Linked DNA regions of Homo sapiens: region 2 is linked to region 1. Evidence: fine-mapped expression QTL. A gene starts in region 1. The other region holds a variant in brackets. All regions are shown on one strand. Distances are from middle to middle.

Region 1 (5,376 bases):
AACTTCTATCCCATGGGAGTATCCTAACGTCACAGAGCAAACCACTGGAGTGAGGATCTGATTAGCCAACTACTAGCATAATCAAAATTTTTAAAAACACACAAGAAAATTAGATGAGTTTTAAAAGCAACCTTTATTCCAGACTCGTTTGCCAGATTCCACCCCTAAATGATAATACACTAGTGGTAAAAGAAGGAAAATCCTTAGTTGGGGGAGGGGAGAATTCTTACCACATAAACTGTAAAACATTTGGACAGAAAATTGTCAAAATATTTTCTTCATCTTGACAGGAGAATGTTAAAACACTTAAGTTTCAAACTTGCATGAAGATTCAATAGATAAATTGCATTTAATGGATTACATTTAATGGATAAATTGCATTTAATGGATTTTAGAGGATTCGAATTATGGTACCTTTATGTAAAGTAAAGCAAACAGAGATAATGATGAGCAGCTAACCTTACCCTAGAATTAAAAGTTTACTAATTTAACAACAGGGTCATATACTGTTTTCCTTCCAACTCCTAATTACTAAGCACTTAAGAGTAGAAGACAAGAGTGTGGTCCCCTCCACTCAGCAACTGAATTCAATACTAATCAGACTTTTCCAATTATAATGCATTGTAAACTATTGAGATGAAACTGTAAATTTAAAAGAACTTATAGAAAGAATTAACAGAGTAAAGAGCTATTCTAAAGTGCTACACTGTTACTCATTTTGTTTTGACAACTTTCACCATAAAGGTCAACAACAAGTAGACTAATTAACAGACCATTAGAAAGTTCGTGGCTCCAAGACAAGCACATAAATTAGAAGCCATGGAAAAATAATCATGCTGCTACTTTAAACAGGCAAAACAAAAACAAAAACGCGCATTTACTTTAGGATAGATTTATACAAGCCACTTCTCCAGGTCAGGCAATCATATGAACTGAAGATCCACTTCAGTAGAATTGTCTGCATTTCAAATAATACTTAAAGGCCACCAAGAACAATCATAAATCAGATCTTTCATGCTTCAAAGCATTGTCATATTTTAAGAACATTCAAATGATCAATCATTCTAAGATCAGGTCTTTGGCTGGTAGAGATGAGAGAACTGGGCCTAAGGAGTGAAACTGTGTTTTTGTTTGAAACAACTAATGTATTACGAAAACCAAAAAGATAGCCACCGGTAATAGGACAGTATACGAACAGAAATGTACCAAAATTAATGCAGTCACCATGTAAATCCCTGAATAACCAGACTTCACAGTCTTAATATTTTTAATCGAGTTACCCGGATTCTCTATGTGTACTTATTTGTAAAGCCCAACAACCTAGCCTTCCCTCCCCACACACAATTATTTAACTGCTTTAAAACTTTCGCTGCATTGTCTCTATGTAAAACAAAACACTCAGATTCATTCTTTTGAAAATTCAGTTGTGACAAAATTGTTTCGAAAGGATTACATTCTGGGAAATAAATAAAAACACTTTGAGAAACTGTTCCTGATTCAGACCGCACCCCCTTAGACCAGCCAAGTTACGGCTCCCCTAGGGTCATCTTGAGTAAGTGTTTGCTTTCCTCGCTCTGCTAAAAAGACGGATCTCTTGGGAATCTCTCAAGGAGTAGGACGGTCGTCACCACAGGCTCTGAGCTGAAGAGGTTAATAGGTACCGTGTATTTTCTAGAAGAAGGGCAGGAAAATGCCCTTCACTTCACGTAGGCCACGGTCATGACCACAAAATGAAGGGAAGCCGAGACTTCAAGCTACGCCAGTCGGAAGGCCACAGTGGTGGCGAGGAGGCCTCAGGGGGGCAAAATTGGGAAAGGGAGAGAGGTGAAAGGGGACAAGAGGAAATTCAGGAGCCCGACTAAGACCGTCGTGTTGGGGGAAAGATCACTCCGCTATGAAGAGGAAAGGCTACTGCTAGCAATGACGAGTCGTCAAAAGTGGAGAGGAAAACTACCGGCTTACAAGAAGAGCCAGGACCGGCGGACGAGACGATGGCGGACCCCAGTAAAATAGAGCCGTTGTCCTTCAGGAAATGGGGGAGGGTGAGCGAAGAGGCCGCGGCGCGCGGGGGCGAAGGCGGCCGGGGAGGGCCGCGGAGGGCCCAGGGCCCCAGGAGCCGTGGGGTGGGGGCAGCGAGCGCGAGCGGGGCGGCTGGGGAGCCCCGCACCAAAGCCAACGCCCAGACGGCCTTGAGGATGCAGACTCGGAGCCGGGGGCGTGAGGCCTGCGGGGAGGCGCCCGCCGGGCCGGGGAGGGGCAGGGGGTGCGGCCGTCCCCCTGCAGGTCGCTCCCCGTGACGCCATCTTGGATCGGTCCAGCTCCCGCAAACCGGCTGCGAAGCGACGAAGCTCACCTCGCCTGAGCCCCCGGCCGACCCCACTCACCTGGGGACGGGCGGCGGCGGGCGCGAGGCTGCGGGTGCGAGGCGGCGGCGTACCGAGCTCCCTCAGCGCTTTGCTCCCAGCCCCGCTCCACTCTGCGATAGCGGCTAGGCGACAGCTCCACCGGAAACGGCCTGGCCGCAGCCAATCAGCGTTCGGCTACTGACGTCAATGCGCCTCGCTCTGGCCAGAACCGTCGCCTTAGCAACCTTAAGGGCGCAACAGCCCCAGTTCCTCCCCCCTGGTCGCTCTTGGAAGGACCCTCACTCTGCGGTCGTTCGTCTTCCGCCATTCTTTCCATCTTACTCGTCCCTTATCCACAGCAGTTTCCTCACGCCCGCCACTTCTCCTTTCCGCAGTCTCCCTAGCCCGGTTCTCTCCTCCTTCCTGCTCACCTGCCCCTCCTTACCTGTCCCTCTCTGGGTGTCTTGGGTCGCCTTTGTTCCTCCGCCTGCTCTTCGCTCTCTCTCCGCGCAGCTATCGTGCGCTTCCCTCTCGTCCCTCCGCTCCTCTGTCCACCCCACTCTCCCTCCGGCCTCCCTTGACGCCTCTGCCTTTTCTCCCTCCTTTCCACCCCCTCCCTGGCCGACCCACGTGGGGCGTCTCAGATGACAGGTGGGCGACTCCTCCCCGCAGCCCCTGCAAGGGAGGGCCCCGGGCCGGGGCGGGGAGAGTCCTGTCGCTGCCAGCCCCCGGAGGAGGTGGCGGCCCCCGCGGATCTGCAGCAGCTGCGCTGCGGGGCCGAGCGCGGGCGGATGGCCGGGATGCGCTCTCCGGGCCGCGCATCCTGTGCCCGGCCAGCGCCGCCCGGGCCCCGGGCTCAGGTCAGTCATCCGGTCCAGGAAACCTGAGCCCTGCCGAGTCTCCGCTGGGGCCGCTCTCCCCCGCCGGGGGTGCTGTCGTCTGTGCAGGCAACACCGTCCCTGTGGAAACCAGGCACGGGAAAGGACTTTGTCAGGGTCCAAGAGGAGGCCTGAGTCCTTCTAGAACCTGAAGTGCCCCCCCATCACTCCTGACCTCACAGAGGGAGAAGTGCAGAGCGTGCAGATTGTCAAAAATGCCCTGTGACCCAACAAGAAATCGCAGCTGTCCAGACAAGCTGCACTAATGGGGAAAATTCGGAGGAAAAGCGACTTTACTCTTTCAGCCATTTTTTTTTTCCATCAGAGTATCTGTCTAAGGAGGAAGAAAAGGGAGACGGTACAATTTTAGACACATCAAGTCTGTAACTCAATAAAGAAGGCCCATCAAGGAAACATGTCCAAGTGTCTGGCTAGGGGCTGCTTTAGTAGCATTGTATATATTTCTAGGGCCGTGTGCTTAAAATTCATAATGGATTCAACACAATACAAAAAAGCAAAATACACACATATGCAAGTGTCCAGGAGCTGTTGTAGTAACATTGTATATACTTCAAGGGCTGTATGTTTAAAGTAAATCATGAACTCAACACAATACAAAAAAGTAGCTCAATAGTGTTTATATTGATTCCAGATTGAAATGATAATATTTTTGATATATTAGGTAAAATATTAAAGTTAATTTCACTTTTGTTTTTTAATTCTTAGTGTAGCTATTAAAAAGTTTAAAGTTACACAGATGGCTCCCATTATATTCCTATTGGGCAGCGCTGCCCTCGGAGGCCGACTGCTCCCCCAAATCCACCAGGCTCTAAGGGTACTGTCCATCAGATGATTTATTTAGTTATGTTATTCACTGCCTTCTGATAGGGATACATAGGCGATATCAAAAGGGCAATCAGGCTTACAGGGGGGAATGGAAAAGGGAAGTTTCTCCTTTCACTGACTCCCCAAATGTTGACCATTGGCCCTTCTCCAGGGTTGATCAGAAATGGGGATAAAAGAGCCTCAGTCAGATAGGATTTCACTCTTGACAGTACAAAGAAGGGTTGATAAACTGAACCCTACGCTGGCAAGCAGCAGAGGGAATTTGATAGCATTGAGCAGGCCCGGTCATGTTATGGGAAGAAAATATTGCAGTCAGGTAAATCTGAGTTTGGTTTCAGGCTCTGCCATGTCCGGTAATTGACTTAATCTCCATGGGTGTCCGTTTCCTCGGTCATAAAAGGATGAACAGGACTTTGTTGAAGTTAACTACTAAGGGTATAACAGCAAACACACGTATAGCACTTACTGTGTTCCAAGCACTGATCTAAGGGCTTTACACATAATTAATTTAATCCTCATAGTAACTCTTAACATAGGTAATATTGTTATTGTTACAGAAAAAAACATGAGACATGGAGAAGTTAAGTGACTTGCCCATGGCCACACAGCTAACATGGCTTAAACCCAGGCAGTGATCTTAATCACTCTCCATTGCAGAATAGATAGATCTCTCTCTCTCTCTCTCTCTCTCTCTCTCTCTCTCTGTCTACATATATATATATGGTGTTCAGTACAGTGGGGGATATATTAAATGAATGTTAATTTACTTCCCATTTCTCCCTCTTCCTGCAGAGCTACCCAAACTACAAGGTTAAGTCAGAGTGACACTATGTCCCACCATTAGTGTTACCTTCCAAGTGCAGTTAAGACACTAAGAATAAGGAAACAAGCAAGCTGCTGACATTGAGCTGAGCACTTTGAGTGACAGCTGCTTCCTTGCTGAGTCCTGGCTGTGTGTCCCCATTCAGCTGCATGCAGGCGCCAGTCCAGCCACGGGCCATTTCCTGTGTCAGTCACACTCAACCTTGTTCTAGGTGCCAAATCCTCATATGCTGGGGCTTTAGGAGACATAAAGGGAAATGGGCAGTAGACAGTTGAGCCCGGGGAAAGTTCAGTGAGACAGCTGTTCTGAAAAACTAAATAGCCTCAGTGCTTTCCAAATGGTGCAAATGTTCTTTCAGTGCCACTGTGCCACTGTGAGAATACCAACTTGTTGGTATTCGTAAATTATGTTTCAGAAATGACATTTGTTCCACTGTAGTTTCTGTATGGTTTCCCTTCTCCAGAGGCCTTCTGCCCTTGATTCA
Region 2 (5,379 bases), 42 kb after region 1:
GCAGTTTCTCCTGTTTTTTGGACAGGAAACCCTACGTTTCCATTTTGCACTGGGGTCTGCAAGTTAAGTCACTGGCCCTGATTGGAAACTTGGTAGTGCAGTGAAGACTCACACGCCCGGAGCAGGAAAGTTCCTGGGAGTTCCACCTGTGTCCCCCAGAACATGGAGGGGTGAGGAAATGGTAGTGTGGGGAGGACTTCTCCACCCATGGCAAGGTGAGGGTCTGAGAGCTTCGAGAGTCATAGAGGCTGGGGGAGTTAGCAAGGCTGGAGCCATCCTGAATGGCCTTACTTGCCACCTGCCTGGGCCACAGAAGAAAGGGGTTGTGTGGGTGGGGCACTGGGGAAGGAGCTGAGCACAAGAAGACAGCTGAACCACACCTCCTCACTCCTATTAGAAACTAGGCAGTGCAGGCTGGGCGCGGTGGCTCAGGCCTGTCATACCAGCACATTGGGAGGCCCAGGCGGGCGGATTGCTTGAGGCCAGGAGTTCAAGACCAGTCTGGCCAACATGGTAAAACCCCCGTCTCTACTAAAAATACAAAAACATTAGCCAGGCGTGGTGGCGGGTGCCTGTAATCCCAGCTACTCGGGAGGCTGAGGCAGGAGAATGGCTTGAACCTGGGAGGCAGAGTTTGCAGTGAGCCGAGATCGCGCCACTGCACTCCAGCCTGGGCAACAAAGCAAGACTCTGTCTAAAAAAAAAAGAAAAGAAACTAGGCCATTCAGAAGGTCTCACGGGAGTCCTCTGAATAACCCCACAAGTGGGGGGCCTCTGAGACAGTCAGGCATTTGCAGACATTTGGAGAGCTCCCCTAGTAGAAAAGCATTAGGCAAGAAAGTACTACAGGGACATCCCTGGCGAAGACCTCCCCCCTCTCCCAGTAATCCCCTCTCATGGCCCCAACTCAGGCAGAGAGAGAGACGGAACGGAAAGGAGGAGGTGGGAAAAGAATAGAGGGGCTTAGCCATTTTGAATTGGCTGTGAGAGTGATGTTTTGATGTTACACATGGCTGGATGGTTCTGCTCTCTGAAAAGTTAGGGTTTCTGTCCATACCACACATCAAGGTCTATGTCTGGGGGAGGAGGAGATTATGGTTACAGAAAAATAAGCTGCCTCCTGCTTGTCCCTCTACTGAATTCACAAAAGCAACCAGTTACCAGTGCATATTCATATATACATTTTAAATACAAATGACAGCATACTGTAGAACTTGAGCCACCTTATTTTTTCCCATCTTAGAGATAGTTCTATTTCAGTACCAATAGAGCTGCTTTGTTCTTTTTAATGACTGCATAGTATTGCATCCACAAGTGTGTCGCAATTAATGCAACCACCCTGTCCCCTACTGATGGACATTTAGTTGTCTTTCAGTTTTCTGCTGTGGGTGTATTACTTTTCAAATCTGGGGGAAAAAATGCATTGAATTTTTAAATTTACACATCACTAGAAGAAAAAAAGGAGTTAGTTTTTTTATTCATTTATACAAAACAATAAGGCTAATGTGTACAGTGAACTCTTCATTGTTTCTGAGTTTTTCCCTCCCATTTTGTGGTAATCTAGAATTTGATGGTCAAAAAGGCCATGCTTTTGGAAGAAAAGAGATTTGGGGGTGGCAGTCACCTCTCTATTACTTATTAGCTTGGCAATCTTTCATACATTATTTTGGTTTTCTGAGCCTCCATTTCTTTGTCTATGAAATGAAGCTGATAATTCCTGCCTGGAAATGTTGATATAATAATAGAGATAATCTTTGGAAAATATAGAGCACACAGTGCATGCTTCACAAAGGCACATGTTTTTATTGTTTTTTTGTTTGTATGTGGATGTGTCTGTATAAAAGCAACGAATTATTAACCTTTGGTTTGTTTTTCCATCACCCCTTCCTCACTATGTATCTTGGCCACCTTTGGCAGATTTGAGGAATGCAAATGTATTTTAATATTAAGCTAAGCAAAGGATATCGAAGAGAAAAGTAGTGTTTAAAGATAATGTAGTTCAAAGACAAAGAAAAATATTCCTCTCCACTAATATCAATCTTTGGTTCTCAATGTGCTTCAGCAATCCCTGGGTTTACCCAAGACTCTCTTGGGGCATCTATGAAGTCAAAACTATTTACAAAATAATCTAAGATGGGCCGGGCACGGTGGCTCATGCTTGTAATCCCAGCACTTTGGGAGGCCAAGGCGGGTGGATCACGCAGTCAGGAGTTTCAGACCAGCCTGACCAATGTGGTGAAACCCTGCCTCTACTAAAAATACAAAAATTAGTCAGGTGCGGTGGCACGCTCCTGTAATCCCAGCTATTAGGAGGCTGAAGCAGGAGAATCACTTGAACCTGGGAGATGGAGGTTGCAGTGAGCCGAGGTCACGCAACTGCACTCCAGCCTGAGTGACAGAGTGAGACTCTGTCTCAAAAAAAAAAAAAAAATCTAAGATGTTATTCGCCTTTTTTACTCACATTCTCTCACAAGTGCACAGAGGGGTTTTTCAAAGGCTACATGATGTTGTGATATGATACGTTGAATACAGAAGCAGATATAAGAATTCAGCTGTCTTCTATTATACCAGACATGAAAGAGATATGCAAAAACAAAAAACGATGCCTCTGTTCTCCCTGTGTTTTGTATGTTTGGGGGTATAAAAAATAATATTAATGTTAACATATAATGGGTTTATTATTACTTTAATGCATTAATAAATATTTTAAATTCTCAGTTTTAATTTCTATTTCACTAAGTAATGATAGATATAATCCATACAAACAAAAGCTCTTTGGGGTCCTTAATAATTTTTAAGAGTGTAAAGAGCATCCAAAAGCTTGAGAGCCACTAATACAGTTAATTGGCATTTGTCAATAATGCTAGTTAAATCAGGACAACATCCTTACTCAAGAGAGGGAAAAAAAAAAAGGACATTCATGATGGAAAGTTTTGTATGATATTTAAGCAACTGATTCTGTAAGTCAGTCAGCCAACAAACATTTCATGAGCACCTATACATGGGGGCATTGCTCTAGGTGCTAGGAGAAGACAGGAGACCCCATCCTCATGGAACTTTGTTTTAGATGGAGGAG[G/A]CAGATAGTAAACATGTAAACCAAGAAATCAACAAGATAATTTCAGTTTTGATAACTGTTTTGGGAGAAATACACAGGCTAATGTGATTAAAAGAAAAAAAAGCTCCTGGGGGTAGAAGAAATTGAGCTATGTGGTTGTGGGAAATTTTACACTTCAAAAGGACTTAACAATCTATACTATGTTCATGGATTGGAAGAACAGGAGAGAAAAAAAAAAGCAGCCTACCTTGAAAATAGACAGTGCCTAAAATGGTGCAAAATGAGTGATTCCTGTTTTGGTGTGGGATAAATCTCTTTTTTTAAAAAAATGACTCTCTCAATTTTCCCTGGGAGTCACTGAAGCAGGACTCTTTCAACTGCTCAGGAGAAAGAGATCCCATCAGGAATGCCAGCGGAAGTGGGTGTTGATGTTCCCTGGGATGAAAGTCAGAGGCATATGGAGCATTCCAGAGTATAAGGTCAGACAAGGGTCACCTATAGATAGAGGCTGACTTAAGCCCCCATCTGTGGAACAGATCCCTGGAGAGGAAGTGGAGAGAGAAGAGCTGAGAGCCTAGGAATGGGCCACTTTAAATATTTTGAGATATGTCTTGTCTGCTTGATGTTTTTCCTAACAGCATGTAAATAGTCTCTGGAACTGACCTTTCATGAAAAATTAGAAACCCACCAAAGGACATTTCTAACCTCAGAGAAATAATGAAAGGTCCAATCTGTACCCTCTTTAGATATTCAGCAGTGAAAACATTCAGTCATGTTTTTGGAAAGCAAGCCAGCTTTTTATTCCTCGTGCGTATTTGCAATCAATAAGGAAAATAGGAGATCATGGACATAATAGGTACCAAAATAAACTGGTGCATTCAGCTTTAGCCAATGAGCATTTGCCAGTTCACATTTCCATTTATAACAGAGGTTCTCACTCATCAGCAATGTGTGGTTTAGAGCTGCTGCAGCCGACTCAGCTCACAAGCTAGCCTCTTTTCTGATAGTGTTCCTAAAATTAAAGGAATACTCAAAACGTCAAACCAGGACATTTCGTTCCAGTTCTTTACCAACTGACACATTTTCCATTACAGCCTGCCTCCTCTCACAGCTTCAGCTACTACATCTTCCCCCAATGACTCCTAGATCTCTCTCCCAATCTCACATATCTACCCTTAGCCCCAGATGCAGATATCAAATACCTCCTAGACATGCCCTCTTTGATGTCACACAGGGTTTTCCTTACAGCCAAAGGGACCAAAGTTTCTGGTCCTCAGTGTTTATTTTTCTGTATCATCTGCATGATTGGCCCCACTCTCCATCCTAACAAGGACCTCCATCACAGCCTGGGTGACATGGCAAAACATCATCTCTCTAAAAAAAATGTATATCTATAAATTAGTTGGGCATGGTAGTATGTGCCTGTGGTCCCAGCTACTTGTGGAGGCTGAGGTGGGAGGGTCAGTTGAGCCTGGGAAGTCAATGCTGCAGTGAGCCATGATGGCACCACTGCACTCCAGCCTGGGTGACAGAGCAAGATCGTGTCTCCAAAACAAATGAACAAACAAAAACAAACAAACAACAACAACAACAACCCCTGCATAATAGAGATCCCCGGCCGAAGCTAAGCAGCTAAGTTTGGAAGCAATCATATCCCAGTGTACCTAAAGAGCTGGTGGTATATCAAGAGATTTTAGCTAGGAGAATGAAAGATAAGATTGGAAAGAACAGGCCAGGAAGGAAAGCCTGGGATCTGCTTCAGATATCGAGTTCTTGAACTCCCATTTGAGCTTCATAAAGAGAGAGCTCTGTGTTGAAACTTATTGTCCAGGTGTCAAGAGTGTGACCCAGAATGAGCACAGGGATCTTGAGAGTACAGTAGGGCTTTGACTCAGTGAGAATGCTGGGGCATCGAGCACTGGTTAGATGTCCCAAGGGTTTGCAGTTTGCAGGCATCTCATAAAACTTTAGTGTTCATGACACCCACAAGGATGGCTATAGTAATTCGGAAAACAAAAACAAAAAAACAGAAAATAACAAGTGTTGGCAAGGATATGGAGAAACTGGAGTCCCTGTATGCTGCTATAGGAATGTAAAATGGTTCAGCTGCTATGAAAAACAGTTTTGCAGTTCCTCAAAAAGTTAAACATAGAATTACCAGGTGACCCAGCAATTCCACTCCTAGGAGTTCAGAGTGTTCTCAAGAGAATTGAAAACACGTACCAAATAAGTACATGTATGCACATGTTCATGATATTCACAATAGCCAAAAGATGGGAACAACCCAAATGTCCCTCAGCTGATAAATGTATAAAATTGTGATA

Which allele goes with the higher level. Positions count from the first base shown, and alleles are read on the strand shown. Sizes are in standard deviations (SD) of each study's normalised expression.
For the expression in atrial appendage of the gene that starts at base 2,503 in region 1, G is the high allele of the variant in region 2 and A is the other (small effect, 0.28 SD a copy in GTEx).

What was found.
Region 2: its variant is fine-mapped to the expression of PRKAR1A in atrial appendage (GTEx, PIP 0.99).

The regions. Positions count from the first base shown.
Region 1 is chr17:68,509,557-68,514,932 of GRCh38, reverse strand. It overlaps PRKAR1A (protein kinase cAMP-dependent type I regulatory subunit alpha), which reads right to left and starts at 2,503. Exons shown (of 11, transcript NM_002734.5): 1 at 2,385-2,503. RefSeq lists silencers at 2,033-2,542, 2,963-3,322 and enhancers at 2,613-2,702, 2,456-3,029.
Region 2 is chr17:68,467,137-68,472,515 of GRCh38, reverse strand. It overlaps a transcript of PRKAR1A not described here. Among named protein-coding and RNA genes, the nearest start is that of WIPI1, 12 kb to the right of the region's middle. The variant G/A (reference allele first, on the strand shown) is at 3,077.